Linked DNA regions of Homo sapiens. The protein of the gene in region 3 interacts with the protein of the main gene of each other region in a pairwise test. Each region holds a gene or a part of one and is shown on either strand. Other genes may lie near its edges. The genes, in order: WDR83, CRYBA2, DNAJB6 and SPATA22.

Region 1 (6,548 bases), on a different chromosome or scaffold from region 3:
CATGGCTTTCCCTGAGCCAAAGCCGCGGCCTCCAGAGCTGCCGCAGAAACGGTTGAAGACGCTGGACTGCGGGCAGGGGGCAGTGCGAGCCGTACGATTTAATGGTGAGCGCCTTCGTCTTCATTCCGGGTCCTCCTCCCGCCTCCTGAGATCGACGGCCCAGTAACCCCCGCCTGGTGTTCCCCAGTGGATGGCAATTACTGCCTGACGTGCGGCAGTGACAAGACGCTGAAGCTGTGGAACCCGCTTCGGGGGACGCTGCTGCGGACGTACAGCGGCCACGGCTACGAGGTGCTGGATGCGGCCGGGTGAGCCGGGGACCAGGCTGGGATGGGAGCGCTGAGGCTGGGATCCGAGGTCGATGCTGATCCTCCTCCTCCTTTACTCCAGCTCCTTTGACAACAGTAGTCTCTGCTCCGGCGGCGGGGACAAGGCGGTGGTTCTGTGGGATGTGGCATCAGGGCAGGTCGTGCGCAAATTCCGGGGCCACGCAGGGGTGAGTGAAAGCCTGGAGACCCTCATTTGAGTGGAGGGGACCCGTATTAGCGCATAGGTGGTGACACGGCCACCCCCATTACACCGTAAGGATCCCTTCCCCAGATGACGATCCCCCACTCCGCATGCCAGGCTAGGCAGTCACCAACCCCTGTCCTTGCTGTTCCCCCAAAACCTTTCACCTCCCCTTCGCCCTTGCTTTAACCGACACTGGGAACCCTGCCTTTATCCCAGTCCTCCAAAGTCCAGCCTCCTCTGAGTGGCAATAACTTTCTCAGAAGGTGAACACGGTGCAGTTTAATGAAGAGGCCACAGTTATCCTGTCCGGTGAGTCTGGGGCCTAAGCACGGGGGCCCAGGGTGCTGCCCTCCCCCTCCAAACCTGACCTCACCATCATGCTGGCCTCACAGGCTCTATTGATTCCAGTATCCGCTGTTGGGATTGCCGCTCACGGAGGCCTGAGCCAGTGCAGACGCTGGATGAGGCCAGAGATGGCGTGTCCAGTGTGAAGGTGTCAGACCACGAGATCCTGGCAGGGTGAGTGGAGCCAGGACCTGGTCTCACCCCAGGTGCTACGGGGAATCATAGCTGCCCCCATGCTCAGATTAAAACCTACTCTCAGCTGGGCACAGTGGCACACAGCTGTAATCCCAGCTACTTGGGAGGCTGAAGTGGAAGGATCACTTGAGTCCAAGAGTTCGAGGCACCATTGCACTCCATGCTGGGTGAAAGACAGACTGTCTACAAAATAATAATAATCTGGCCGGGCACGGTGGCTCACACCTGTAATCCCAGCACTTTGGGAGGCCAAGGTGGGCAGATCACTTGAGGTCAGGAGGTTGAGATCAGCCTGGCCAACATGGTGAAACCCCGTCTCTACTAAAAATGCAAAAATTAGCCAGGTGTGGTGACGGGAGCCTGTAATCCCAGCCACTCGGGAGGCGGAGGCAGGAGAATCGCCTGAACCCGGGAGTTGGAGGTTGCAGTGAGCCGAGATTGTGCCACTGCACTCCAGCCTGGGCGACAAAGTGAGACTCCATCTCAAAAAAAAAAAGATAAAATGATTTCTAAAAATAAATAAAAATAGGCCGGGCGCTGTGGCTCATGCCTGTAATCCCAGCACTTTGGGAGGCAGAGGCAGGCGGATCATGAGGTCAGGAGATCGAGATCATTCTGGCTAACACGGTGAAACCCCGTCTCTACTAAAAATACAAAAAATTAGCCGGGCATAGTGGCAGGCGCCTGTAGTCCCAGCTACTCAGGAGGCTGAGGCAGGAGAATGGAGTGAACCCAGGAGGCAGAGCTTGCTGTGAGCCGACATCGCACCACTACACTCCTGGGCGATAGAGCAAGACTCCGTCTCAAAATAAGTAAATAAATTAAATAAATAAATACATAAAAATAATCATAAGGAAGAATTTTTGTTTTTTTTGAGACGCAGTCTCGCTCTGTTGCCAGGCTGGAGTGCAGTGACGTGATCTCGGCTCACTGCAACCTCTAACTTCTAGGTTCAGGCGATTCTCCTGCCTCAGCCTCCCTAGTAGCTGGGACTACAGTCGCGTGCCACCACGCCCAGCTAATTTTTGTATTTTTAGTAGAGACGGGGTTTCGCCATGTTGGCCAGGAGGGTCTCCATCTCTTGACCTCGTGATCCACCTGCCCTGGCCTCCCAAAGAGCTGGAATCACAGGCGTGAGCCACCGCGCCTGGTGGAAAAAATATATTTTCTATTCATTAAGTGGAAGTGAAGAGATCGTCATAAAGATCTTCGTGTTGAGAAAGCAGAGGAGGAGGAAGAGGAGGGATTGATCTTGGTGTCTCACAGCTGATAGAGGCAGAAGAAAATCCACATATAAGTGGACGCGTTCAGTTCAAACCGTGTTGTTCATGGGTCAACTGTACTTTGAAAAGTGCTCCCTCTGGTGGCTGTGGGGGGTGCAGGGAGACCAGAACAGTCTAGATGCTGGTGCTGGGTAGTGGGGAAAGTGGTGGGACTGAGTACTGAGGAGGAGGAGCTGGAGAATGCAGGAAAAGGGGGAATTGGGCCAGGTGGGGTGGCTCACACCTGTAATCCCAGCACTTTGGGAGGCTGAGGTGGGCGGATCACCTGAGGTTGGGAGTTCGAGACCAGCCTGACCAACATGGAGAAACCCCGTCTCTACTAAAAATACAAAATTAGCAGGGCGTGGTGGTGCATGCCTGTATTCCCATCTACTCGGGAGGCTGAGGAAGGAGAATCTCTTGAACCCGGGAGGCAGAGGTTCCGGTGAGCCAAGATCATGCCATTGCACTCCAGCCTGAGCAACAAGAGCAAAACTCTGTCTCAAACAAAAGGAAGAAAAGGGGGAATCAGAAGGACTCCAAGGGCTTGGAAAGGGGGTGTGGGTCTTGGAAATGATGGAGTAGGACGTAATTGGCCCTGGGCCTGAGTCTCAAGGCCAGAGCTTCAGAATTCCACTCCTGTGCACTGGAAGAGCAGGCCCACTGGGCTGGGAAGGCACAGGGCTGCCTGGAGCCATGTGAGTGTAGTCAAGGTTCCCGCTGGATCTACCCTCTCCTGCAGCTCCGTGGATGGCCGCGTGAGACGCTATGACCTAAGGATGGGGCAGCTCTTCTCAGACTACGTGGGCAGTGAGTGTGGCTGGGGATGTGGGACAGGCAGGGAAGATGGGGGGCCAACCAGGGGCACCCCACCCTCACTCACCTACCCACCCTTCCCCCAAGGCCCCATCACCTGCACCTGCTTCAGCCGGGATGGGCAGTGCACCCTGGTGTCCAGCCTGGACTCCACATTGCGGCTCCTGGACAAAGACACAGGGGAGCTGCTGGGCGAGTGAGTCCTTGTGGTCGTGGGGATCCCCTTCCCTCCTCTCCCACCCCTGGAGAGGACCAAGCCCCCCGATCCTGTCCACCCTTAGGTACAAGGGCCATAAGAACCAGGAATACAAGCTGGACTGCTGCCTGAGCGAGCGTGACACACATGTGGTCAGCTGTTCTGAGGACGGGAAGGTGTTCTTCTGGGACCTGGTGGAGGTGAGGTGCCCCCAGCCCTACTTCATACCTAGATGCCTGCCCCATCTCAGCCCTGTCCTTACCTCAGTCACTCCAGGGCCTGAAGGCTAGGATCTTTTTTTTTTTTTTTTTTTTTTTTTTGAGACAAGTCTTGCTCTGTCGCCCAGGCTAGAGTGCAGTGGCGCAATCTTGGCTCACTGTAAACTCCGCCTCCCAAGTTCAAGCGATTCTCCTGCCTCAGTCTCCTGAGTAGTTGGGATTATAGGTGCGTGCCACCACACCCAGCTAATTTTTGTATTTTTAGTAGAGACAGGGTTTCACTATGTTGGTCAGGCTGGTCTTAAACTCCTGACCTCATGATCCACCCACCTCAGCCTTCCCAAGTGCTAGGATTACAGGCGTAAGCCACCACACCCGGCCCTTTTTTCTTTTTTTGAGACTATTGCCCAGGCAAATGCAGTGGCGCCATCTCAGCTCACTGCAACCTCTTCCCCCCAGGGTTCAGGTGATTCTCATGTCTCAGCCTCCTGAGTAGCTGGGATTACAGGCCCCTACCACCATACCTGGCTAATTTTTGTATTTTTAGTAGAGACAGGGTTTCACCATGTTGGCCAGGCTGGTCTCAAACTCCTGACCTCAAGTGATTCACCCGCCTCGGCCTCCCAAAGTGCTGGGATTACAGGCCTGAGACACCGTGCCCAGCTTGGGCTAGAGAGAAGATGAGGCAGGAAGGGCATTCCAGGCAAAGGGAACAGCATATGTTAAGAGGTGTAGCCTGCGCATGCATCAGTCAGGAAACAAAGGCTTCAGGGTGGCGGCAGGTGCGGCAAGATCCGGGGTCAGGCTGGGCTGCAGATGCCAGGCCGAGCAACTGGCACTGACCCCTGGGCAAGGGGGAGCCGACGGCCATGTCTAACCTTGGGTGAGATAGGGCTGCAGTCATTCAAGAAACTGGAGCTACATCTTAGCATCCCTGTGCATGGTTTCAAGCCCTGAGCCCTGTCCTTGACATGTCCCAGCCTGGTGGGGAGTCAGGCCAGAAACAGACCATCCTGGTGTAGTGGGGTCAGAGCCGGGGGAATCTCGGCAAAGGAGACATCAGCGCTGGGCTTGGCCAGGGGAACTAAGGCCCATAAGAGGATGGAGGGAACCGGGGGGGCCCTGAAGACTTGGCGGACAAGCTCTTGCTTTAGGAACTAAGGTAGCAAGAATGTTCCACCTATTTCTTATGGGCCCAGTAGAACAGAAGTTGCCTTGGAGGGCAGGCACATCAAGGGACATTTTCAAGGTGGAAAGAGGAAGCATGGCTTGCTTGAGGAACTGTTTACATTGTGTTGGGACCAGGGGAAGTGGGGATCATTGGGGCTGCCAAATGGACAGGATGGAGCCCAGCTGGTGGCAGGGAACAGGCAAGCTGTGAGCAAGGCATGCTCCAAACATGGTAGTGGCAGAAAATCAGCAGTCTCTGGACATGGTCTAGAAGCAGAGCCAAGAGGAATAACTGATAGAGGAACATGTGGTACAAGAAAAAGACTCCCGGCCAGGCATGGTGGTTCACACCTGTAATCCCAGCACTTTGGGAGGCCGAGGGGGGTGGATCACGAGGTCAGGAGATAGAGATCATCCTGGCCAACATGGTGAAACCCCATCTGTACTAAAAATACAAAAATTAGCTGGGCATGGTAGCGCGTGCCTGTAATCCCACCTACTCGGGAGGCTGAGGCAGGAGAATCGCTTGAACTAGGGAGTCGGAGGTTGCAGTGAGCCCAGATGGCGCCACTGCACTCCAGCCTGGCGACAGAGCAAGACTCCATCTCAAAAAAAAACAGAAAAAGAAAAAGACTCCCAAAGCCAGGCATGGTGGCTCACACCTGTAGTCCTAGCACTTTGGGAGGCCAAGGCAGGAGGATCACTTGAGGCCAGGAGTTCGAGACCAGCCTGGGCAACATGGTAAGACCCCATCTCTGCTATTTTAAAAAATAAAAAATCAATAAGAGGCTCCCAAGACTTGCGGCCTGAACACCTGGTAGGACAGAGCTACTGAGGGGCTCAGTCTGAGGTAGATTAATTTTGCAGTGTCTAGGAGGCAATTAGAGGCAGGTGGCTGAAGGTCGGGGAGAGGTGACTGAGGGCTTCAGGCAGGACTGAGATGGGGGGTGCCCAGGGACCTCAGAAACCAGGGTACAGCCCAGCCACAGATAACCACTCCCTACCCCTCGCTCCACAGGGTGCGCTGGCTCTGGCCCTGCCTGTGGGTTCCGGTGTGGTGCAGTCGCTGGCCTACCACCCAACAGAGCCCTGCCTGCTGACCGCCATGGGAGGCAGCGTCCAGTGCTGGCGAGAGGAGGCCTATGAGGCAGAGGATGGAGCAGGCTGAAGCCAGGGGACCCACCAACAGGACCAAGGACCGAGACACAGACATGGAAGGACTTCAGATACCATCTTATTCTAGAGACGTAGCTGACCAAAAAGTAGGGGAGGGGCTGGGTCTGCAAATTAATAAATAGAAGAGGGGGTAAGACCTTCCTGGGACCGCAGCCGCTCAGTCCTCGTTCTTCTCATGCATGAAGGCATCCATCTTCTGGGCAAAGGTTTCAGCCACAAGCAGGGGGAAGACCAGGGAGGCGTCAGCATAGACCTGGGTAGGGGGGAACCTGGGTAAGCCATGGGACCCACACTCATCGTCCCAGAGACCCTATGCCCCACCCAGCCAGCGCTTACCTTGACGGGCTGTGCATCCACCCGGATCTTGCCCCAGGAGACAGCCTCGTCTGGTCGGGCACCTGAGTCAGAGCCATCAAACTCCTGGGCTGTGTTGATGTAAACAGCGTAGTCGGCCCCGTTCCGCTGTGGGGAGGCGGGGGCACGGTGGGCCCAGTCAGCCAGTCACAGGAGACAGACACAGAGGGAGGACACCGTAGCCAAACAGGCTGAGAGGTGTGTCCCAGATGAAGGAAGCCCTTCACAGACATTCGCTCCCAGACAGGGCCCATGTCAATGTCTGGGGTCACTAGAGCTGCTGGGCAACGATGGCTGTGTTTC
Region 2 (7,648 bases), on a different chromosome or scaffold from region 3:
AGGCAGGGAGTAAGCTCTGCCCCCACCCCCACCCTATGTTCTCCACCAGCAGCCCCCCTTTTGTAGCTCCCAACCCCCAGTTCCAAAATCATTGCTTCAACTTTCCCTCCGTGGCTCTCTCCCTCCCCTGCCCACTGCTTCCAGTCTTTCTGTCACCGTTCTCATCCAGTCTTCTATACCCACCCCTTATTTCCTCCACCCCCTCATGTTCTCCAGCCCTTCATCTGTGCCCATATTGCCCGCTGCCCCCCATTCTCCTAGGACCTCCTCATTTCCTCCCTTCCAGTCTGACTCCATCATCTCCCTCCCCTTGCCTCCAAGTCCCCAATATCTCTCTTAGCGCCCTCCCCACATCACTTTTCTCCACCCTCTTCCTTGGTCCCCATTGCCTCCCTGCTCTTCTGTCTCCCTGGTTCCAGTTCCAGGACTCACGCTCCGGAGCTGACTTTGAGGGAACCCACATCCTTGCTGGCCCAGCCCATGGAGGGCAGGGATGGGTAGTCATCAACGAGGTCAAACTTGCAGCCTTGGAAGTTGTCCCCCTCAAACAGTGTCACACGGCTGTCATTGTGGTTCTGAGGCACAGCAAGATCAGGACAGAAAGATCAGGGCTTCCAAAGGGTTAACGGATACATCCTCTGCCTCACTTCCCCCACCCACTGCACCTCACAAGCTGTGAAGCTGTCTAGGACCCACAGGCACTCCCAGAGCTCACCCCATCAGCTCCCTGGCAGTCTGGGAAATGGATCGCTCAGAGGTTCCCCCGAACCTGGCCCCTCCCATGACTTTGAGATAAGGAGGTGATTGGGGGATAGGATTTCCAGAGACCCTTTCAGGTCAGGACTAGAGAGCATCTTGTGACATGGGCCCATTTTGCAGGAGCAAAATCAGAGGTCCTTAGAGAAATCTGTCCCATTCACCAAGACAGTTCCCTGAGGTCCTCATTGACTAACTACCCAAGCCCTTGCCCAGCCCCTTCGCACAGCCTCTCACAGATTAGTGCCCAGCTAAGAGGTACTGGGTGGCAGAATCAGAATAGACATGTCAGGGCATCAATACTGATTGCATCTTGGCTCCGGCCTTCCCACTGCAGGGTTCTTCAGCCTCTTGGAACAGAAGAATTGGGCTGGCCTGGGCTGGGTCCTCTGCTCTCCACTTCCCAGCCCTACTAGTAACCAGGTCGGCACAAATGGAAAATGAGGTCCTCTCTTTCGGTGTATTTGATTCATTAACAACACCCTCACACACACAATAACACACACACAAACACACTGAGACTGACTCTTTTCAGTGACCCTGGGCAAGCCACTTTGTCCCTTTGAGCCCCATTTCCACACCTGTGTATGGGGCTAACAGCAGTCAACCCGACCTCACATGGCTGTGTGACGACAGAGGCACTCACTCACACGTGTGGACGATGGAATGTGGGGGAACCCTGGGCACTCAGGACTGGGATGGCCTCAGCGCTGTCCGTGGTGATGATTTCTGGGCTCCGGGCCTACGCCCACAATCCCAACTTTCTTGGAGACACCCTTCTGATTCTGAGAAATAATGCTACTACCACCCATCTCGGAGTTTGTTTACACACACCCCATGCAGGGCTTGAACAGCCTTTCTAGGTGCCATGGTGAGGCCAGGGCCTGGAGCTAGGAGGCAGGGGAGGAGAAGTGGGCTGTGCTCACCGCGCAGAGCACTGGCCGGAAGGACAGCAGCTGGTTGCTGTTGTGGCTGCTGCTGCCACTCCAGGCGCTCCAGCGAGGATAGTCTCCCTTCTCCAGAATGAACTGCTGTCCCTGGAAGTCGGGGTACTCAAAGGCCACCCAACTGGAAAAGGAGAAGAGCTGGGAGGTATCTGCCCCAGCCGCACCCTCTCTGCCCTCCCCCTTGCCGGCCATGATTGAAAAGACTGAGAAGCACAATGTTTTTCTCCAACCCCAAACCCTTCCCCTGACACCCCCATTGTATGGCAATCCAGCCCCTCTCGGAACTAAAGGTCCAAAACCTGCTGCTTTCTGGGGTTTGAGGCGCCCAGGCTTCCCCCTCAAGGACCCCAGGTTGGGAAAGAGTTTTCCTGGTTATGAAGATCTCCCGACCCAGTGCTCCTGCCTCAAGGGTTTAGGCCTTTGCATGGGGACACATTGGAGGACCCCTCCCGAATATCACAGCAGAAACTGGGACCTCAGCTGGGGCAGGGGTAGGGGGCGGCAGGGTGGGAAAAGCTGGGCTCTGGGAGACCAGGGTGGGGCCAGGGAAAGGGATTGGGTTTCTTTTGTTAAGCCAAGTGCAGAGCCTTCTAATTTTGCACAGAGAAAAACTCTGGGAAGGGTGTAAGTACACTAGAAACCCCTTCACGGTGGGGTCCCATAGGGACCCTCAAGGGGTCGCTTCTCGCCTGTGTCTCTTTAGCTAGCACAAAAATACACAGTTTCCCATGATTTATCTTGCGATGGGTGGGGAATTTTGGGGAGGCTATGGGGTTTCCCATGTTGGCAGGTCTCTCCAGGGCTCACAGGACAGGGGGCTGAGGCTCTGAGCCTAGGCCGGTGGAACCCAGCGCCCCTCAACCCAGCCCAGCCGCGGCCAGGCAATCACTCACACGCCGTTTTCCACCTTGACCGAGCGCACCCTGGGCAGGCCTCCGCGCTCGCAGACGTTCGCACAGTCGCTTAGCAGCCGACAGCGACGGCCCTGGAAGTCCTCCTCGTCCCAGAGCGTGAGGCTGGCGGGCGCCGGGCCCGGCGCGGGGGCGCTGCTCATGCCGCTGCGGACAGGAAGGGTGGCACCACGCGCTCAGCGTCTCAAGAGCCCCGTTTCGAGCCACACACAGCCTGCCCAACCTGGGTAGCGGATGAAGAACCCGGGGGCTGGACCCGGCCTAGCTCTGGACCCGGCTGCCAGGGGCTCGCAGTCTTCCCGCGCTCCCCTCCCTTCCCCACCCCAGCAGAGGGCATTCACCGGGTGGGTGAGCGCGGCACGCGAGGGAAATGGACCGGCTGCGAGGCTGCGCGCGGCCGGGCGGGCCGAGCTTTATACCTGGGCCTTGTCCCCCTGTCCGCACCCTTTCCCTCGGGGGTGGGGTCGCTGAGTCAGCAGGCAGGCTGCGGTCGGCTCTGGTCTCCGCTGGGGAGCCGAGGCCTCTCCCGCAGCCGCCGCTGTGGCCCCAGCCCGCGGGAAAGACAACAGAAAGTGCTGAGGCGCGCACCCCGCGCCCGCCGCAGCCCAGGCTGACTCCGCGCTTTCTTTCTTTCCAGCCTGAGCCAGGCAGGGCACGCCAGGCCTCGGGGCAGAACGCGCCCTCCCTGTCCCGGCCCTCGGGGACGAAGGGACCTGGCCTCCCCTGGGCCTCGGGCTAAGACCGCGCTGCTGACTCGCTGAGCGGAAGTTCTTCCCAGAGTCTAATCGCCAGCCTTCCTCGGCCCTAGTCCAGGCCTCTCTTTTGGGCGATGCTAAGGCGGAGGTAGAGAGGGCTCTGCCCAAAGGATTCGCTTCATGTGCTCAGTCCTCTTTTTCCTGGGGGATCGGTCCATCGCGGCCCTTTTCCTCCCAAGCGTGCGTTCCCAGATCCTGCGCCGCGCCCCCGGGGTGTCCTCGGGCCCGGGAAGGAGAGGAGGCGGTGGTCAGGACTCGCCACGCGGCGGCGCCGGGCGCTGGAAACGACCGCCCGAGGGCCGCGCGGTTTACTCAGTGTTTAGGCATAATAGCCACCTAGGGAGTGGCTCGCCGCGGGAGGTAGGAAGAATGTTGGGCTTTAGCTCGGCTCAACCGGTGCCGCTGCGGGTCTCCCACAAAGCTCCAGGCTCTAAGGGTTCCAGCCTCGACGTCTGCCTGAGAGTTAGCAGCTGAGGATGAAGCGCTTAGTTCAGGCCGAGTTCTCTGCTCAGGCTTTCGGGTGCGTGAACTCCATCAATTCTAACACTGACCTGCTAGGAAGATACTGTTATTGTCCTGCATTTCGCAGATGAAGAAGTGGAGGCCCAGAGGGCTTTGGAATGTGGTGCAGGGGTCACAGCTAAGAAATCTCCCAGGGCCGGGCGCAGTGGTTCACACCTGTGATCCCAGCACTTTGGGAGGCCCAGGTGGGAGGATCTCTTGAACCCAGGAATTTGAGACCAGCCTGGGCGACATGGTGAAACCCCGTCTCTGCAAAAACAAACAAAAATTAGCCGGGCGTGTTGGCATGCGCCTGTAGTCCCAGCTACCTGGGAGCCTGAGATGGGAGAATTGCTTGAGCCCAGGAGGTGGAGGTTGCAGTGAGCCGAAATCAAGCCACTGCACTCCAGTCTGGGCGACAGAGTGAGCTGGGAAAAGGCGGCGGTGGGGGTGGGGGTGGGGGGTGTAGAGAAAAGGGGAGGTAGAGGGGGAAGAGGAAAAGGTTGGGAGCTCCAAAAAGGTTGGGAGTCCCAAGGGGTAGCTCCAGGTAGGAAATTTCCTCACCACTTGCAGTGGAATTTTCTAACCACAGCAAATGAGACACAAAGGCTTCTTGCAAAATTGTAGGTTTTCCTTAATGGTGGTGGGTGCGGGTGGGGATATTCCAGCAGAGGTGAGAGGGGCGAGTGAGAAGGGAGCTAATATTTTGTTGCTTCCATGAGTCACATGCTTCCCTTATGGGTCCTCACAACAGTCCAGCGAGTTAGGTTTGTGTGTACGGTTATGGAAGCGGAGGGTCAAAGAGGTGCAGGGCCTTGTCCAAACTCACATGGCTAGCCAGTTTCAGAGCAAGAATCGAGCTCAGACCTTTGGAAGCCAAAGCCTGTGCTCCGCCGCTGTCCATTGAAGCTCCCGTGCCAAAAAGTGCTCACAGGCCAGCTGCGGACACCCCAGCTCCCAGAAGCCTTGCCACACCAGCCTGCCTTCTAAGCCTTCTTCCCAGTGTTCCATACTCAGCCCATCTCAGAGCCTTTGCATTTGTTGTTCCAGCTACCTGGAGTGTCTTGGTCACAAGATCGTGGCATGGCTGGCTCCTGTGTCACCTCCTCAGTGATGCTGTTCTAGGCACCCTTCCATCCATCACATCAGCCTTTTTCTTTCTAGCATTTATCACGCTGTAAAGTTATCTTTTTCATCTTGTGTTTATGGGTGTAGCAGCATCTCCCTTACCAGAGTGTAAGCTCCATTTGAAGGGGCAGGGACTGTGTTTTGTTCTCAGTTGTTATCCTCAAACCTAGCACAGTGCTGGATGCATAGTAGGCACTCAATAAAACTTCTTGAACGAGTGAACGAACAAGGTGGTCAGGCGTGGGCCAAATGTCCACGGGAAAAGGGGTGTAGAGAAAATTCTCCAATGGAAGTTGGCGGGGGGGTCTTGGCAGCTTGCTCTCCCACCTCTGAAGTTCTGGGTTGCTGAGAGCAGGAGCTGGGGGCAGACAGAGGATCCCTTGGGCTCTCTTTTCCCTGGTGAGGAGTTACTGTTGGAGCTCGCAGTGTGTGTGAAGATGGGTGCCAACAGTACAGGGCCCTAGAACTGGGCATGGCGGTAGAGTCCGAGTGAGGAGGATATGGGTCAGAGATGGGACAACCTCAGGCAGGTTTGACTGGGGGTGAGGTCAGAACAGTGTCCTGATTCCCTACCTAGCGGGGGTTTGAACAAACACAAACCTCAAGGAGGGAATACAAACCACAGAGTGGGGCACGAGCCAGTTCTGGACCCTTGGTGTCCCAGTCTTTGCCTTCAGTGTCACCAGCCCGGGCAGGGGTGAGGGGTGAAGAATCAGATCTCGCCTTCCCTCCTTCCCCCATCTCTATCCGACAATTCTGGATTCGGCCACCAGAGGGCAGGAGCAGGCCGCGCTGGCCCGAAAGCTGGCGCGGAGGGCGGGGTGGAAGGGGAGGTCCAGGTCGGGAGGGGCCGCGGGCGCGGGTGGCTAGTGCGTCAGGCTGTGCGTCTGCGCTGTCCCTGACGCGGACGCCAAGTGTTGGTCAGAGGGTGTGGGGGTGTCTGTCGGAGACTGGACACTGTGCACCGAGCGGGGCTGGGGGCTGGACGTACTCTCGAGGGTCGGGCTCCACGCGTGGGTCCCACGGCGGCATTCTGCAGGAGTGGTGCGTCGCGCCTTTTCCAGGGTTAGGGGAGGAGGAAAAGCGGGGAGGCCGTCCAGCCGAGGTCCAGGTTAGAATTAGGAGTCCCGCTTGGAGTTGGGGAGTGGACCCCGTGTGTGAGAAGGGCCCCTACTCCTCCTCCAGTGTGAAACTCTGGTCTTGGCGGCAGCCAGCCTCTCCCCTTCTCTACCTTGTCCCTCCCCGTGGAAATGGTATGGAGGTACCCCCCCCACCCCCTCACCCATGACTTCTAGTTCTAGTAACTGCGACCAGCTCTCTCAGAAATGGGCATACCCACCACCGCCACCCATAGTCACTGGCCCAGAAGACCTCTAAACATCTCAGGGTTCCCCTAACGCCCTCAGGCCCCTCCTGACTTTAGGCCTCACAGTTATCGCCAAAGAGAAGAACCACTGAGGGGAAGGGGCTTCGAGGCAGCCCTGCCTACTGTGCCAGGAGAGGACTCTGGGATCGATAACCCCCCTTGGGTACCACGGACCCCCTACTGGTCTCCTCCTTTCCCTACCAGGCTGGTCCAGCTCTGCTCCTCTCCCCAGCTGCCATGCCGCCCACCCCCCCCACCCCTAGCAGCTGTTCCTGTTTGTTTTCCCAGATCAGTTGCGCCCAGAGCTTCCTGAAGGATGGGTGCCCAGGTGGCTTTGTTTGCCAGCTCAGCACAGTCACCCCTACCCCCTCCACATCCACAGCCTGGCCTTGGGGCATGGAGCGGGGAATTAGGTAGACAAAAACCAGAAACCCCAGTGGACACTTCACAGAGCCCTCAAAATCTCACAGAGATCTTATCACCCTCAGGGCCCCCACCCTGACCTCATTCAGTTCTCCATCTCACACTGGGACCTTTGAGTCCCACAAGGAAATCCTCAGGACCTCACCCCATCCCTAGCCACCATCTCCTGCCCTCTGATTTCACCGAAACCCCCATCCCATACAGACCCATAAGATCCCACAGAGAATCCTTTGAGCCTAAGTCCCCTCCATGAGGCCCTCACATCCCACCCGGACTCCCATCCCATGTGGGGACACATAGATCCCGCAAGGAAGCCCTCAAACCCACTCCTAAGCTCCTGCCCAATCTCCGTCCTAGGCAAAGGCCCTGAGAATCCCAAAGAAGTGGCACCTCTCTCACCTAGAGCCCCACCCCAGGAACAGCCTGACTGCTCAGTACTGCTGGGCAGCGGAGAGGGGCTGGTGGCCAATGTCCCCTCCTCGAGCGGGTCGCCTCCCAGCCCTCCCCCCTCGTTTTACTGGGAAATCATCCAGGGGTTGGGTACTGAAGATGCAAATTCAGGGAAGGGTGCCTTCCCTCACCCTGCCACCATCACCAGCCCCTCCTTTCCACCCCTGCTTCTCTGGCCCCCGCCCCCACCCCCAGTCTGGAGCCCAGAATCAGCAGATGAGCACCTTCCCTGGGGCTGTGCAGGACTGGTCTCCTGGGAGACAGAGATAACGGGGTACAGAGACCAGCCCAGTTTGGGCCAGTTAGGAGTCCCACCCACACAGACCCATTGTTCTATCCCACTAGAAACAGAGCCCCTCTCCTCTGCCCCTCAGTGGGGTTAGAGAACTGGCCACCATCCAGGAGCTGGCA
Region 3 (7,022 bases):
GGCATACACAGTTGAATCTTGTCCTGCATTCTCATCCATTGCCAAGTTTTCATATGAACACTAGATGATAGGTAGTACTGCACACTAATCATTTTTTCTCTTTTGTCTTTTGTATGGTCTGTTATTTTTGACTGAGGATTTCTGGCACATTTAGGGTTATTTGATCCACTGCTACACGTTTTTTTTTTTTTTTGAGACGGTGTCTCGCTATGTCACCCAGGCTGGAGTTCAATGGCGTGATCTCGGCTCACTGCAACCTCTGCCTCCCAGGTTCAGGCGATTCTCCTGCCTTAGCCTCCCGAGTAGGTGGAACTGCAGGCGCCTGCCATGATGCCCAGCTAATTTTTATATTTTTAATAGAGACGGGGTTTCACCATGTTGGCCAGGATGGTCTCGATCTCTTGACCTCGTGATCTGCCTGCCTCAGCCTCCCAAAGTGCTGAGATTACAGGCATGAGCCACTGCGCCCGGCTGCTACATGTTTGTTTAGGTCCACAGTGACATAAATTACTGTTAAGTATTCTGGACTCCAGCTTTAATCAGATTTTAGTATGGTTAAGCCAAGGTTTTGTTGAACATGTTGTAAGTTAAATTGAGCCACAACAGCTTTACAGTAATAACTTGCCTAGTGTTAAAAGCACTGTCAGATTAGTATACTAGTCTGAAATTTTGAGGGGTATGCTGCTTCTCTTTTTTAACGTTACCCTCCTTTTGAATATATGCTGCTTAGGTTTTGCTAATTAGACTAGAGGATTTTTTTGTATTCATTCATTCATTCATTCATTCATTCATGCATTCATGTTGAGCCGGAGGCTCGCTCTGTCACCTAGCCTGGAGTTCAGTGGCACGATGTTGGCTCACTGCAACCTCTTTCTCCTGGGTTCAAGCAATTCTTCTGTCTCAGCCTCCTGAGTAGCTGGGATTACAGGTGCGTGCCTTCATGTCCGGCTTTTTGTATTTTTAGTAGAGATGGGGTTTTGCCATGTTGGCCAGGTTGGTCTCGAACTCCTGACCTCAGGTGATCCACCCACCTCGGCCTGCCAGAGTGCTGGGATTACAGGTGTGAGCCGCTGCACCCGGCCTTTTTTTTTGTATTTAAATAGCGTGCAATTATTTGGTCAGTTGGAACTCTGCAACAGAATATGACCTTGGTCATAGAATCTTTGTAGAAGTCAGTGTTTTAACTCTGTTTAGATCTTGAATCTGGCACAGAGGGTGTTTGAAAGATTCTGAGATCCTGGCCTGTTGGGTGGCAGGTGATTCACCTTTGGCACACAGATGAGCTAGGTAGTGGGGCTGGCTGAGGAAGTAGGGTCCTGGGAATCAGAACATGGAAGGATATGAATGGTGATGTTGGATCTTGCTGCTCAGTGACCCAGGCCTTTTTTTCCCTTTTTAAAAATTTTTTGAGACGGAGTTTCGCTCTTGTTGCCCAGGCTGGAGTGCAATGGTGCGATCTCGGCTCACCACAACCTCTGCCTCCCAGGTTCCAGTGATTCTCCTGCCGCAGCCTCCTGAGTAGCTGGGATTACAGTCAAGTACCACAATGCCCGGCTAATTTTGTATTTTTAGTAGCGTTGGGGTTTCTCCATGTTGGCCAGGCTGGTCTCGAACTTCTGACCTCAGGTGATCTGCCCACCTCCCAAAGTGCTGGGATTACAGGCATGAGCCACCACGCCTGGCCTTTCTCCTTTACTTCACATACTTGCTCAGTCTTGTCACTGTCAGTCCACGTTGTGGACACTGTGATCTTTATTTTTCTATCTCTAGAGGTTCGTTTGTATTATGCTATCAGGATTTTTATTCTAAAACTTACTTTAATGAGTATTTTTACAATTTTAATTTTGAGACAGTCTTGTTCTGTCGCCCAGGCTGGACTGCAGTGGTGTGATCATAGCTCACTGTAGCCTTGAACTCCTGGCCTCAAGCAGTTGTCACGCCTCAGCCTCTGGAGTAGCTGGGTCTATCTGTGGCTGCACGCCACTACGCCTGGCTATCTGGATTTTAGAACTTTGTGTATTTCATTGTAGAGGAAAGGGAGGTTTTACAGTTAAAACCAGTATTCATCTCACCAGTTGGCAGCTCTGAAGCCATTCTCGTGGTTAATGATGTTAGTTTCAAAAGCATAGTTGATTTCTGGATTTAGAATGTGATCTATATCCTTTATTCTTTCCAAGATATCGGAAACTGGCACTGAAGTGGCATCCAGATAAAAATCCTGAGAATAAAGAAGAAGCAGAGAGAAAATTCAAGCAAGTAGCGGAGGCATATGAAGTGCTGTCGGATGGTGAGTGACAGCGAGCTGCTGAAGGACCCTGAGCGGGCATGCCGGAATGCGGAGTGGGTGTTGGGATCCTCCTCAGGGTAGCACAGTATGGACTCAAGTGACTTGTTTTTGATGCCTACTGGATTTTGGGCCCTTCTAAGAGATTTTTACTTTTCTCGTGAAGATTTGAATTGATTTAGGTAACCACGAGTGCTGGGGAGCTCCAGGGCTTCTAGTAGTTTCTCCTAGGATGGCTGTTTTAAAAGCGGGACTAGACATCCTGGGTTTGAGGAACCTGGGAGAGAGGAGGTTGCGGGACTCAGGTCACTGTGCATGTGGCGTGCTTGCCCCCGTTGTGTGTGATCATTCTGACCTTGCTCACCCCCACTGGCTTAAACAATACCATTCCAGTGGAGTCAGCTTTACTGCTTGAGAGGATGTCATTAGTTCCCAAAAAGAGGGGATGGAACATACAGCTAAAATTTAGATTTCCAGTTTCAGGCCTGTTTTCCCCTCCTAGGTCTGGAGCAGAGGTGTTCTATGTTACTGGAAGTCAGATCCATTGGCCTAGTTCACAAATGGGTGAGGGGTCAGAGGTCAGCTGTCGCCTAGATGCAGTCAGGGTTCCATGGGGGAAGTAAAGGCTGTGCATGGGGCCTGGGGTGGGGGAACAGTGACAGAACTGGAAAGCCACACAGTGCCCCTGTCTGCTGCAGTGCTGGGTGGCCTGTTGTGAGCAAAGGCCGAGGCTTTTCCAAGGTTAGGGATGGACTAACTGAACCCTGGAAGTGGGCACTTGGTTAAGTGTATCTGCATGTGGTCAGGTAATTGGCCCTTATTTACAACAAAAAAAATTTTTTTTTTTTTTAAAGAACCCAATTTGAGGCAGAGGTTGCAGTGAGCCGAGATTGCGCCACTGCACTCCAGCCTGGGCGACAGTGCGAGACTGTCTCCAAAAAACAAAACAAAACCAAACCAATCAGAAGGAACCCAGTGTAAGCTTGCCACCTTCAACAGCTACCAGCACACCACCAGCCTTGCTTTCTCTGGTGACACTGTGGCCCACCCCCTTTGTTTTAGAGGAAATTCCAAACATTTTACTTCAAAAAATATGAAAAGACATAAAAACACCGATATTTGAAGTCTTCTTGAAATGTGGCATTTAAGGTCTTGAACTGTTGAGCTTATTCATTGGAAAGTTTATTTTTTTTAAAGAGAGAGGATCTTGCTATGTTTCCTAGGGAGGCCTTGAACTCCTGGGTTGAGGTGATCGTCCTCTCTCCTCAAGTTCCAAGCACCATTGCGCCAGGCTTGTTCCCTTAGATTTGTGCGCTGGGAGTGACAGAGGAGGGCACAGGCCTCAGTGTTACCATCTTGGTCTTCGGTCCTTGTTGTTTGTGTGCTAATTCAGTATTGCCAGATTCAGGATTTTAGGGACTAGTAACATTAGGAAAAGTGAGGGCCAAAATGAAGCTTCATATTTGATAGAGCAGCTTTAAACTACCACACTGAAAAGTCGCTTGGTTCTTTTGGGAGGTGTATGAGGTGTGTTTTTCATGTCCTTTTAGGCAGCCTTCAGTGCCAGCTGGAGTTGTCTTCAAAACATGGTCATTGTTCTTGCCATGGCACTGGCTACCTGAAACTGCTTGCAAGTGGTTTGTTTCTAAGCTCGTTTTCCCATTTTGTGGAATGTGAGATTTTCTTCTACTTTTTAAAAATTGAGAAGGGGTCTCACTCTGTTGCCCAGGCTGGAATGTAGTGGCATGATCACAGTTCGCTGCAGTCTTGACCTCCCAGGCTCAAGCGATTCTCCCATCTCGGCTTCCTGAGTAACTGGGACCACGGGTGGGTGCCACTGTGCCCAGCTAACTTTTTTGTATTGTGTTTAAAGGTGGGATTTTGCCGTGTTGCCCAGGCTGGTCTTGAACTCCTGGGCTTAAGTGATCCACCTTCCTTGCCCACGCAAAGTGTTGGGATTATAGGCGTTAGCCACTGCATCCAGCCTATGAGATTTTTTGAGGAACGCAGATGGTGTCATGTCAGAAGTACCAGTGCTTCTAATGTCATTGTTTTTGTTCTGGGATATAAGTAGCATTTGGAATGTAAGTGTGAAGACTGTCAGTGGAGAGGGGCACACTAGCCCCAGGCCTTGCATCCGGGTGGTCCACTTCGAGGGTGAATGAGCCTGTAGGGTGTTAGGTTGGCGCCTTTCTGGCACATCTGCTTTCTCCCACTTGCCTAGGCCCTGGCATGTTTGTTTTCGTGCTGCAGATATGGTCCTCTAATTGGGTTTTTGTAGTAAGATGGTGCACTTCTGTGGTTGCAATAATCTTGTACTTGGTCGTGTGATTTTAATGTAGCATGTCTGGGCTCTGTGCAGTAGAGTGAAAGAAACGATCTAATGGAATAAAGAAAAAAATTTTTTTTTGCTTTTGAGATGGAGTTTTGCTCGTTGCCCAGGCTTGAGTGCAATGGTGCAATCTGGGCTCACTGCAACTTCTGCCTCCTGGGTTCAAGCGATTCTCCTGCTTCAGTCCCCTGAGTAGCTGGGATCACAGGCATGCGCCACCATGCCTGGCTAATTTTGTATTTTTAGTAGAGACTGGGTTTCTCCGTGTTGGCCAGGCTGCTCTCGAACTCCTGACCTCAGGTGATCGGCCCTTCTCGGCCTCTGAAAGTGCTGGGATTACAGGTATGAGCTACCTCGCGTGGCTAAGTCCCCCCCGCGCCTACTCTTGTTGCCCAGGCTGGAGTGCAATGGCACGATCTTGGCTCACCACAAACTCCGCCTCCCGGGTTCCAGCTATTCTCTTGCCTCAGCCTCCTGAGTAGCTGGGATTACAAGTGCCTGCCACCACGCCTGGCTAATTATTGTATTTTTACAAGAGATGAGGTTTCACCATATTGGCCAGGCTGGTCTCAAACTCCTGACCTCAGGTGATCTGCCCACCTTGGCCTCCCAAAGTGGTGGGATTACAGGTGTGAGCCACCATGCCTGGCCGTAAATACTTAAATATTTCTAATAACTTGTAAAAATTCAACATACTGAATTTTTTTTGAATTGTTTTTCAGGAGAGAGGTACAGAAAGTTTTCCCTGTTGCTTTGTTTTGTTTTAAAGAAAAGGTGGCCATACTCCTTGAAATTCAGTTGTAAAACATCGAAAACTGATTTACAACTGGGGAAATACCTTATCTATTGAATTAAGGGTTTAAAAGGAACTTGGCCTTACCGACTTTTCTTTCAATTTTTAGCTAAGAAACGGGACATCTATGACAAATATGGCAAAGAAGGATTAAATGGTGGAGGAGGAGGTAAGTACGTGAGTTTTTTCTTTGAAGACAAAAGGTCTTGGCAAGTAAGTTGAGTTTGTAAATCACGAGTCTCTTGGTCAGAGTCGATTTTGTATCAGTAAATAGAGATGCAACGTAGAAAGCGAACTAAATTGGGGAGAGGACAGAGAAATTGATGGCATTTAAAAGTCTTTTACGAGACTAGAAGTATATGTTGATGTATTTTTTATAGATAGAAACAATTTGTAACCATACTGCAATATATTGTGAACATATACCCTTAGATCAGCACTTGACGTTATGTCAAAATATCCTAAGGGTTTAAAGAGCAGATTTTCCTGAAAAGCTAAAATAATGACTTTGAAGGGCGTGGACTTTGTCCCCAAAAGTTCCCACGGTCACTGGGCTGTGACCAGCCTCCCCAGGGGTGTTGGGAAATTATTGCTCCAAACCCACTGGGGCCACGCGGCAGCTTCTGTGGCTCCAGGAGGCCAGTCGTCGAAGTGGATGCAGATACTCTTGGTCTTCATAAACCTTCATAACAAATCATAAAAATGGTGTGTAATGTTACATGTTATATGCCGATCACGGATTTAGAGATGGTGAAAAGTAGTGTCGAAGGGGCCACTGCTGCACTCATATGCCATCAGCGCTGGGCACACTCACTCTCTGTCAGTACAGGGCTCATGTTTTGAATTATAGAGAACTTCAGGTTTATGAAATATTTTTGTTTTTATTAGTTCATGATTTGTATAATGTTTTGTCAACAAAGAATTCTTTGCCTACAAAGCACCAAAATTCATAAACTAAAAGCTGTGTTGTATTTGTGCAGGTGGAAGTCATTTTGACAGTCCATTTGAATTTGGCTTCACATTCCGTAACCCAGATGATGTCTTCAGGGAATTTTTTGGTGGAAGGGACCCATTTTCATTTGACTTCTTTGGTAAGTTAATCACGTGGGTTGACTTGGTGTGTGTCCATGACCCAAATGAGGGCTTACTTAGTATGGCCTTTCTGTTGAATTAACATTGTATTTTAGGCTGGGCGCGGTGGCTCATGCCTGTAATCCCAGCACTTTGGGAGCCTGAGGCGGGCAGATCACCTGAGGTTGGGAGTTCAAGACCAGCCTGACCAACATGGAGAAGCCACGTCTCTATTAAAATACAAAATTAGCCGGGCATGGTGGCGCATGCCTGTAATCCCAGCTACTTGGGAGGCTGAGGCAGGAGAATCACTTGAACCCGGGAGGCAGAGGTTGCGGTGAACTGAGATCATGCCATTGCATTGTTGTCTGGGCAACAAGAGTGAAACTCCTGTCTCAAAAAAAAAAAAGTTAACATTGTATTTTGTCACGAAACTTTGTGTTTAAAGCAGCATTGGACTAGCCTGAACAACATGGTGAAACCCTGTCTCAACAACAACAAAAAAAATACTAAAAATTAGCTGAGTGTGGTGGCGTGTGCCT
Region 4 (7,325 bases), on a different chromosome or scaffold from region 3:
TCTTGAATACAGTTAATCCACCATAAATAATAGTTACTATTATCTTCATTATGCATCATCATTCCCCTGGTTCTCATCATCCTTGCCATCTGTCTTTATACTAATAAATTGGGAAAGCAAAAATGATAGGAGAAGCTATTAGAAAGACAGAAGTGCTTCCGGAAATATTTTTAACAAGTAAGTCACAAATACAAACAAAAATAGATCTATTTCTTTGTTTTCAGTTTTAAAGCATAGAATAACTCAAGCACATCGAATTTGTAGAAAGAATATCAAAATAAATCTAAGAAACTTTGATCTTACTCCCACCTCTACCACTAAATGTTTTGTCTTGAGTAAGTTATTTTACTTCCTTGGACCTAAAAAGTAAAGAGGCTAGATTAACTGTTCAATCTATTTTAAATTTATTTCCAATGTTATATCTATAAACTATACAAGCTTTATATGCTATACAGAAAATTTAAAAATAAAAAGTTGTTCAATACCTGCTGTACTTCGAGCTGAATTTTCATTTAGGCTTCGCTTCATTTCCTTCAATATCAAAATCTATAATTTTCTATTCAGCATTCCAAATTTATAATATGACATTGTCCCACTAGACCTGCAAAGAAAGAAACTTATAACTCGTATTGTCTCAACTATAAAACCCAATCCTCAGCCCAGTGATTACTGAAATTATGGTTGTAAACTACTTTCAAACCTGATCACGTAAACACTTTAGGGAGTCCTTTGCTTTCTAAGAGTTTACACCATAATCCACTTTTCCAACCCTGTTCAAATTAAGTTATGACTAGGGCAACTGTAACCTTGCTTCGTAAACATATGTGCATTTTTTCACACAGTATATGTAATTTATTTCAGAATCCCGCACCCACAAAGAGAATTCTGAACCACACCTACAAAGAGGAAAATGGACCACAGCGTTGGCAAACGTACATGCTTCCAAGGCCAAGGAGGAAACACAGTATTTAGCCACCGGGAACTTCCTCCATGCCCCACTTTAAGGCATTGTGCAGGACATCTGCCTTTGCATCAGTTTGAAATGCCTGGATTATATAATATCAAAGACTAAGTCTTCCTGAGGTCAGGAGTTCAAGACCAGCCTGGCCAACATGGCAAAAGCCCATCTCTACTAAAAATACAAAATTAGCCAGGAGTGGTGGCGGGCGCCTGTAATCCCAGCTACTCGGGAGGCCGAGGCAGGAGAATCGCTTGAGCCCGAGAGGCCGAGGTTGCAGTGAGCTGAGATCGTGCCACTGCACTCCAGCCTGGGCAACAAGACCCAGACTCCATCTCAAAAAAAAAAAAAAAAAAAAAAGACTAAGTCCTCCCTTCATATCTAGAATAATTGTAATGACAAGTTTCCACTCCATTTCCACAACTTCAACAAGTGAAACAAGTTTTTCCTTAGTTTTCTTCTTTTACAATAGAATTTCTCTTGTAATTTTGCACGTTTAGCCCCTTAACACATTTCATCCCCAATCTAATACAACGAACACTTGCCCACTGCAAGAAGAGGCAAGATACAAACCCAAACCAGGTAACTTCTGTTCCAAATTCACAACCCAATGAGACAGACAGACCGACACATACACAACTAAGCAATAATGCAAGTCAGGCCGAGGTGTTAACTTTCAAATATCGTTTGTAAAAATAAAACTTGGGAAACAGGCCGGGTGCAGTGGCTCACGCCTGTAATCCCAGCACTTTGGGAGGCCGAGACGGGCGGATCACGAGATCAGGAGATCAAGACCATCCTGGCTAACAGAGGGAAACCCCGTCTCTACTAAAAAATACAAAAAAATTAGCCGGGCGTGGTGGCAGGCACCTGTGGTCCCAGCTACTCGTGAGGCTGAGGCAGGAGAATGGCATGAACTCGGGAGGCGGAGGTTGCAGTGAGCGGAGATCGTGCCGCTGCACTCCAGCCTGGGCGACAGAGCGAGACTCCGTCTCAAAAAAAAAAGAAAAAAAAACAACTTGGGAAACACGAGGTCAGGTGCTGCCTCTGTTTTGTTTCCACATCTTAGGCTTGAAGCTGGGTAGAAGAGATGGACCCTTTAGAAAATATTCCTGGTGGCCAGGTGCAGTGGCTCATGCCTGTGATCCCAGCACTTCGGGAGGCCAAGGCAAGTGGGTCACCTGAGGTCGGGAGTTCAAGACCAGCCTGACCAACAACGTGAAACCCCGTCTCTACTAAAAATACAAAAATTAGCCGGGCATGGTGGTGCGTGCCTGTAATCCCAGCTACCCTGGAGGCTGAGACAGGAGAATCACTTGAACCCGGGAGGCGGAGGTTGCAGTGAGCCGAGATCACGCCACTGCACTCCAGCCTGGGCGACAGAGCGAGACTCTAGGGAAAAAATGGAGAGAGGGAGGAAGGGAGGGAGGGAAGGGAAGGAAGGAAGGAAGGGAAAGGAAAGGAAAGGAAAATATTCTTGGCGCCATCCTAGGAGCCACAACAGGGATTCTGCCACTTTCTCCACCGGCGCAACTCACATCCTATATTTAGAGGGGCTTACGAGGGCTATTATGTTTCTCAGGATCAAACAAACAGAATAAACAACAACAAAATTTTTAAGTGTAACATTCCACCCGCGGGACCATTGATCCTGAGGGCGGGGACCCTCATTTACCCCCAATCCCAGCTCCCAAATGGACCTAAGTGGCGTTAGTAATGGGGTTGGTGGCATTGGTGTGCAAAAAGTGTGCTCAATCTGCACGCACACACACACACACCACCCACAAAAACCACGGCCTCAAATGGCGGCCTGTTTTGGCTCCTGACCGCGGTGGGAGAGAAGAGGCTCCAGTCCGAGTTGAGACGCTCTTCCAAAGGCCTCTCCTGACCCGCCCACGGAGTGGGGGCAGTTTGGTATCAACGCACAGTCTTTCCCTTCTAGGCCCTCCTGCCAACACGACACACAACTTTCGCCCTCAGTTTCCCTCGCCTCCGTCAACCGTCGTCCAGGCGGCCCCGTCAGCAACCGCCGCCCTTCCCGCCCGCGAAGAAAGCGCGGGAATCAGGCTGTTCGCAGGCGCCGTGGACCGCGCAGGCGCAGTGGCCGCCACCTCGGCGCGATGGCATCTTCGCTGCCTGCCTGGCCGCCCTTGGCCGGGCGCGATGACGTTAACGCTCTTCCTTGGCGTTCTCACACTGTGGACCCAGGGATGGCTCCAGCTCCTTAGAGTTTTGCCCAGAGAGGAAAGGAGACTGTCCTGTGACTGGAGAGACAGAGGCAGATCTCCTGCCCAACCGGCCTCAGCCCCACCATCGTCTAAAAAGTGTGCCCCACTTCCCCTCACCCCCTGGCCCTTAGGGTCCAGACATCCGTTTGTTAGATGCTGGTGGCCACCCAGAGTGTGCCCAGAGATTGACTCGAAGGCCACCCGAGGTGTCTGGCTCAATTTCTGGGTCGGATCAGGGTCAGGGAATCTGAGTCCCCGGGAGGCTGGGGACAGAGCTGAAGCCCAGGTTCAGATGGCGGCCATGGAAGGCGGAGAGCCGTCAGCGAGGCAGCGCCGGGGCTGCGGGAGCTTGCGGGAGGGAAGCGCCCGTGAGCCGCAGAGACGCTCTGCAGGGGAAGCCGCGTGGTGTGCGACCCTGGGCGTTGAGCTCCAGGCTTCCTGGCAAAGAGGACTGTGGATTCCTGGCCCTGTGACCTTGGGCAAGTTACTTACTGAACACCCTCTGGACCTACCAGTAAAAGAACAATAACAACAATCGCCCTAAAAATACTAGAAGATGAAATAGACAATCCTGGCACACAGTAAATGCCCAGTAACTGTTAGCCCTTATTTAATTTGAGTAACAGTAGCTGCCATTTATCCGGAACTTACTATGGGCCAGGTAGTGGATTCTAGAGCTGTCTGAGTTCAAAGCCCATGTTTTGTTGTTACCGTATCTTCTAACCATTTGAAGACTGGGATAGGGAAGGGCTTAGAGATGAAAGGAAGATTGTTAGTAAAGGCCTAGGCCTATAAGACCACAGACATTTTAGTAGTTGCTTTAAAACTATCTCAAGTAAAGAAGAGTGTTAGAAAATAATATTAGATGTAGACTGAGACCAGATAATAGCAGACCTTGAATGCCAGAGTAAGGAACAGCTTTCAAGGAATAGGGCCATCTTTTATTTTGGGAAGAAGAAGACTTGAACAATAAAAATAAAACTTGTTATTTATCATGGTTCCAGAGAGGAGTTACCCAAAACATGAATAGAAGCTTCAGGGAAGCAGATTTTGACTTGATATCTACATACGGATGTGCATACATTTACAACACACACCCACCCACCCCAAAAATAGATTTTTCATTAAAAAAAAAAAAAAAAAACCACCTTAAGCCGATTACTTCTGTAGGGACTGCAGACATGAGCAATATAGAATATTTGCTAGCAGTTTATAAACTTAATCTGTTTTATACTTGTCTTTTTCTGCTTATTTATTTCCACCTGGAAAGTTGGTCAGGATGGATCACAGGGAAGGAGAAAACTAAAGTAGTAAAAGTAGTTTGATTACATAACTACTGAACATCACATTATGTATGAGACATCTTATGTATAATATTTAACAAAAAACCCTTCTTATCCCCCAGTCATACCATTTGGGAAACAACCCACCTTAAATTTGTCTCCTACAAAATTTCTGGCAGGGATCTACTGGACAGCCATGACTGTGAAGTAAAACTCTGCTCTCCTTTTGTTTTGTTTTGTTTTGTTTTTGAGACGGAGTTTCGCTCTTGTTCCCCAGGTTGGAGTGCAATGGCACAATCTCAGCTCACTGCAACCTCCGCCTTCTAGGTTCAAGTGATTCTCCTGCCTCAGCCTCCTGAGTAACTAGGATTACAGGCACCCGCCACCACGCCCAGGTAATTTTGTATTTTTAGTAGAGACGGGGTTTCACCATGTTGGCCAGGATGGTCTCGAACTCCTGACCTTAGGTGATCCGCCCACCTCGGCCTCCCAAAGTGCTGGGATTACAAGCATGAGACCACACCTGGCATCCTTTTGTTTTAAACTACATTATTTTATTAATACATCAGGCAACTCTATCCCACAAAACATTTGTAATGCTGGAAGTTATGCTTACTCTTTTAAGTACTTCAGAATATTATATATTCAACTTAATAATGAGATAGTGACAATTCGAAAGGGTTTCACTTCGTATACTATCAGTTCGCTGAGAACTAATAAAAAAGTGTGGTTTTTTGGGTCATCCCAAAAATCAAGTACACTTTGGGAAACAGGGAGTTAAAAATCTTTCGGAAGTTAACTTGGTATAAGAGTATGAAAAGCCTCTGTTGCTCTACTTCTGAGGAAATGCTCTCCTTTTTCCTAATAAAGCTTTCCACAGAAGACAAACTCTGTACACAAAAAACAAGGTAAGTATGGGAAATAATTGCTGCAATTCATTAACTCTCAAAAAAGTTATTCATTTTGACATGTAAGAGAAACTTTATTTATGAATGTGAAATGTGCTTCAAAGTGCTGATCTGTTAAAATTCCATAAAACAAGCTTCAAAATGCAAGTCATTTGTGCCAGCTACGAGTAAATAACTGAAGCAGCATTTCCAGAGAGACTAGGGCAAAGGACAGAACAAACTACAAATCAGCAGAAAAGAAACCAAGCATAGTAGAGTGTTAATAATTCACCATGGTTACTGCTCTTAAAACCAAAGCAACTAAACAACTGTCATCTGTTTACTTTTACGTGTGTTTTCATCATCTCTACACCGTCTGAAGTGTTCAGTGTACATGGATGTGGACAGACAGTCAAAGCCTACAGGAGCTTTTTTTTTCTATTAGAACAGTCATTTTAATGCATAGATTTGATGTGGTTATTTTGCTTTCTCTATCTCTGCATTATAAGCTCTTAAAGGAAGAACATTCAGTGGGTTTATTAAATATTAGGAAGCATTCATATTTTATTTTTCCACCATGTATTTGGTTTGTATGCATGTTTGTTTCCTGAGCACACTGTAATGGCTGTTTATGTGAATTCTGAAAGAGCAAAACTAGAACTGTGAAGAAGACCAAAAATAACAGAGAGGCACCCTATTGTCCTGTGAAAAACACTAGACTTGGGATGAGAAACATGGGTCTCAGGCCTAGGTTCTCCTACATCCCTGCAGAACCTTAACTGAGTTACTTAACCTCTCTTTCGTTTACCCCTGCAGTGGGGATGTCAACACCTAACCCACCCTATCGTATAAAATTAATGTATGAATAAACTGAGTGAAAGGACATTATAAATTAAACTCTGCAATTGTAATAAATTACTCTTATTGTACCCTCTATCAAACAACCTGGCGTTACTAGTACATGGTATTCCCAGTACTTGAACATATGTGACTTTCTGGGTGACTGAGCATGAAATCAAATCAGATTTGGCTCAGAGTCATTTCTCCAAAGGGATGTAATCATCTTAGTATTCTGGAAAATTTCCCCTAATAAGACCCCTTTTTGAGTAACACAGTCCAGTGGAGAGTCCCCGCTGACAGTGAATAAGGCTGTGTCTATGTAAGTTCACATGATGTGGTTAGCACATGCAGTGTGTCCCAAGACATTTTCAGGCATCACAAAAACTTGAAAAGTACTAACAGTTGTCTTTCCTTTGGTATTTAGGCAAAAAATGAGGAAGATTCATAAGTAAGTTAACACAGAATTACCAAAAACCTCATGAGAAAGAAATGAAGGGATGTTTCAGGGTAGCTTTTCGAGTCCCAAGTGATCATTGATTTGGCCCTTCTGTTTCTGATTGTGAAAAAGCATTCTGAAAGAATGGGCGCCGGTTCAAGAGGAGGTCTCTGAGGGTCAGCCTTTGGCTGTTTATAGAGGTGAGATTCAAATGCCCTCAGATCATGAAAAGTGCTTGAACTCATTTCAGAGAAGAAATGTTTTGAAATGCCCGTGGAAATACTGAGTGGGCCACTTTTTTATTTTGTGAAATTAGAAACGTATAAACTATTTTTATTATTACAGATAATTGTGAAAGCCTCACTGGATGACATCCTAGCTGAGGAAAAGAATGGAATTTTTGTATTAGTATGAAATGCTAATTTATTACTGTATTTAGATCTACTGACCATCTGAGGGAGTTAGAAGTTAAAGTAAACAGCTGTATCTCTAGTTGATCTTTGCATATTTTAATCCAAATATGGCAAAGGGCAGGGCTAAAGAAGGGAGTGTCCATAAACGGGGCTCAGAACTTGTAACAGAAAATTAAAATATACTCCACTCAAGGGAATTCTGTACTTTGCCCTTTGGGTAAAGTCTCATTTACATTTCTAAACCTTTCTTAAGAAAATCGAATTTCCTTTGATCTCTCTT

What was found.
Region 1: the proteins of DNAJB6 (region 3) and WDR83 interact in binary tests that used the Homo sapiens proteins (3 or more experiments, as listed by UniProt).
Region 2: the proteins of DNAJB6 (region 3) and CRYBA2 interact in binary tests that used the Homo sapiens proteins (3 or more experiments, as listed by UniProt).
Region 4: the proteins of DNAJB6 (region 3) and SPATA22 interact in binary tests that used the Homo sapiens proteins (3 or more experiments, as listed by UniProt).

Annotation. Positions count from the first base shown.
Region 1 is NC_000019.10:12,669,790-12,676,337, forward strand, and holds the end of WDR83 (WD repeat domain-containing protein 83), read left to right. Parts: 5' UTR 1-1; coding exon 2-104; intron 105-187; coding exon 188-308; intron 309-390; coding exon 391-496; intron 497-773; coding exon 774-822; intron 823-905; coding exon 906-1,032; intron 1,033-2,680; exon of another isoform or gene 2,681-2,791; intron 2,792-3,057; coding exon 3,058-3,125; intron 3,126-3,218; coding exon 3,219-3,327; intron 3,328-3,412; coding exon 3,413-3,527; intron 3,528-5,733; coding exon 5,734-5,883; 3' UTR 5,884-6,002; downstream 6,003-6,548. Other genes in the region: DHPS (deoxyhypusine synthase), read right to left, coding at 6,049-6,144, 6,228-6,353. UniProt on the Homo sapiens protein: Molecular scaffold protein for various multimeric protein complexes. Acts as a module in the assembly of a multicomponent scaffold for the ERK pathway, linking ERK responses to specific agonists.
Region 2 is NC_000002.12:218,990,420-218,998,067, forward strand, and holds the start of CRYBA2 (beta-crystallin A2), read right to left. Parts: upstream 3,004-7,648; 5' UTR 2,758-3,003; coding exon 2,597-2,757; intron 1,825-2,596; coding exon 1,683-1,824; intron 576-1,682; coding exon 433-575; intron 1-432. UniProt on the Homo sapiens protein: Crystallins are the dominant structural components of the vertebrate eye lens.
Region 3 is NC_000007.14:157,360,984-157,368,005, forward strand, and holds part of DNAJB6 (dnaJ homolog subfamily B member 6), read left to right. Parts: intron 1-2,177; coding exon 2,178-2,287; intron 2,288-5,518; coding exon 5,519-5,578; intron 5,579-6,389; coding exon 6,390-6,500; intron 6,501-7,022. UniProt on the Homo sapiens protein: Has a stimulatory effect on the ATPase activity of HSP70 in a dose-dependent and time-dependent manner and hence acts as a co-chaperone of HSP70. Plays an indispensable role in the organization of KRT8/KRT18 filaments.
Region 4 is NC_000017.11:3,468,798-3,476,122, forward strand, and holds the start of SPATA22 (spermatogenesis-associated protein 22), read right to left. Parts: upstream 3,023-7,325; 5' UTR 2,885-3,022; exon of another isoform or gene 2,634-2,884; intron 602-2,633; 5' UTR 529-601; coding exon 486-528; intron 1-485. UniProt on the Homo sapiens protein: Meiosis-specific protein required for homologous recombination in meiosis I.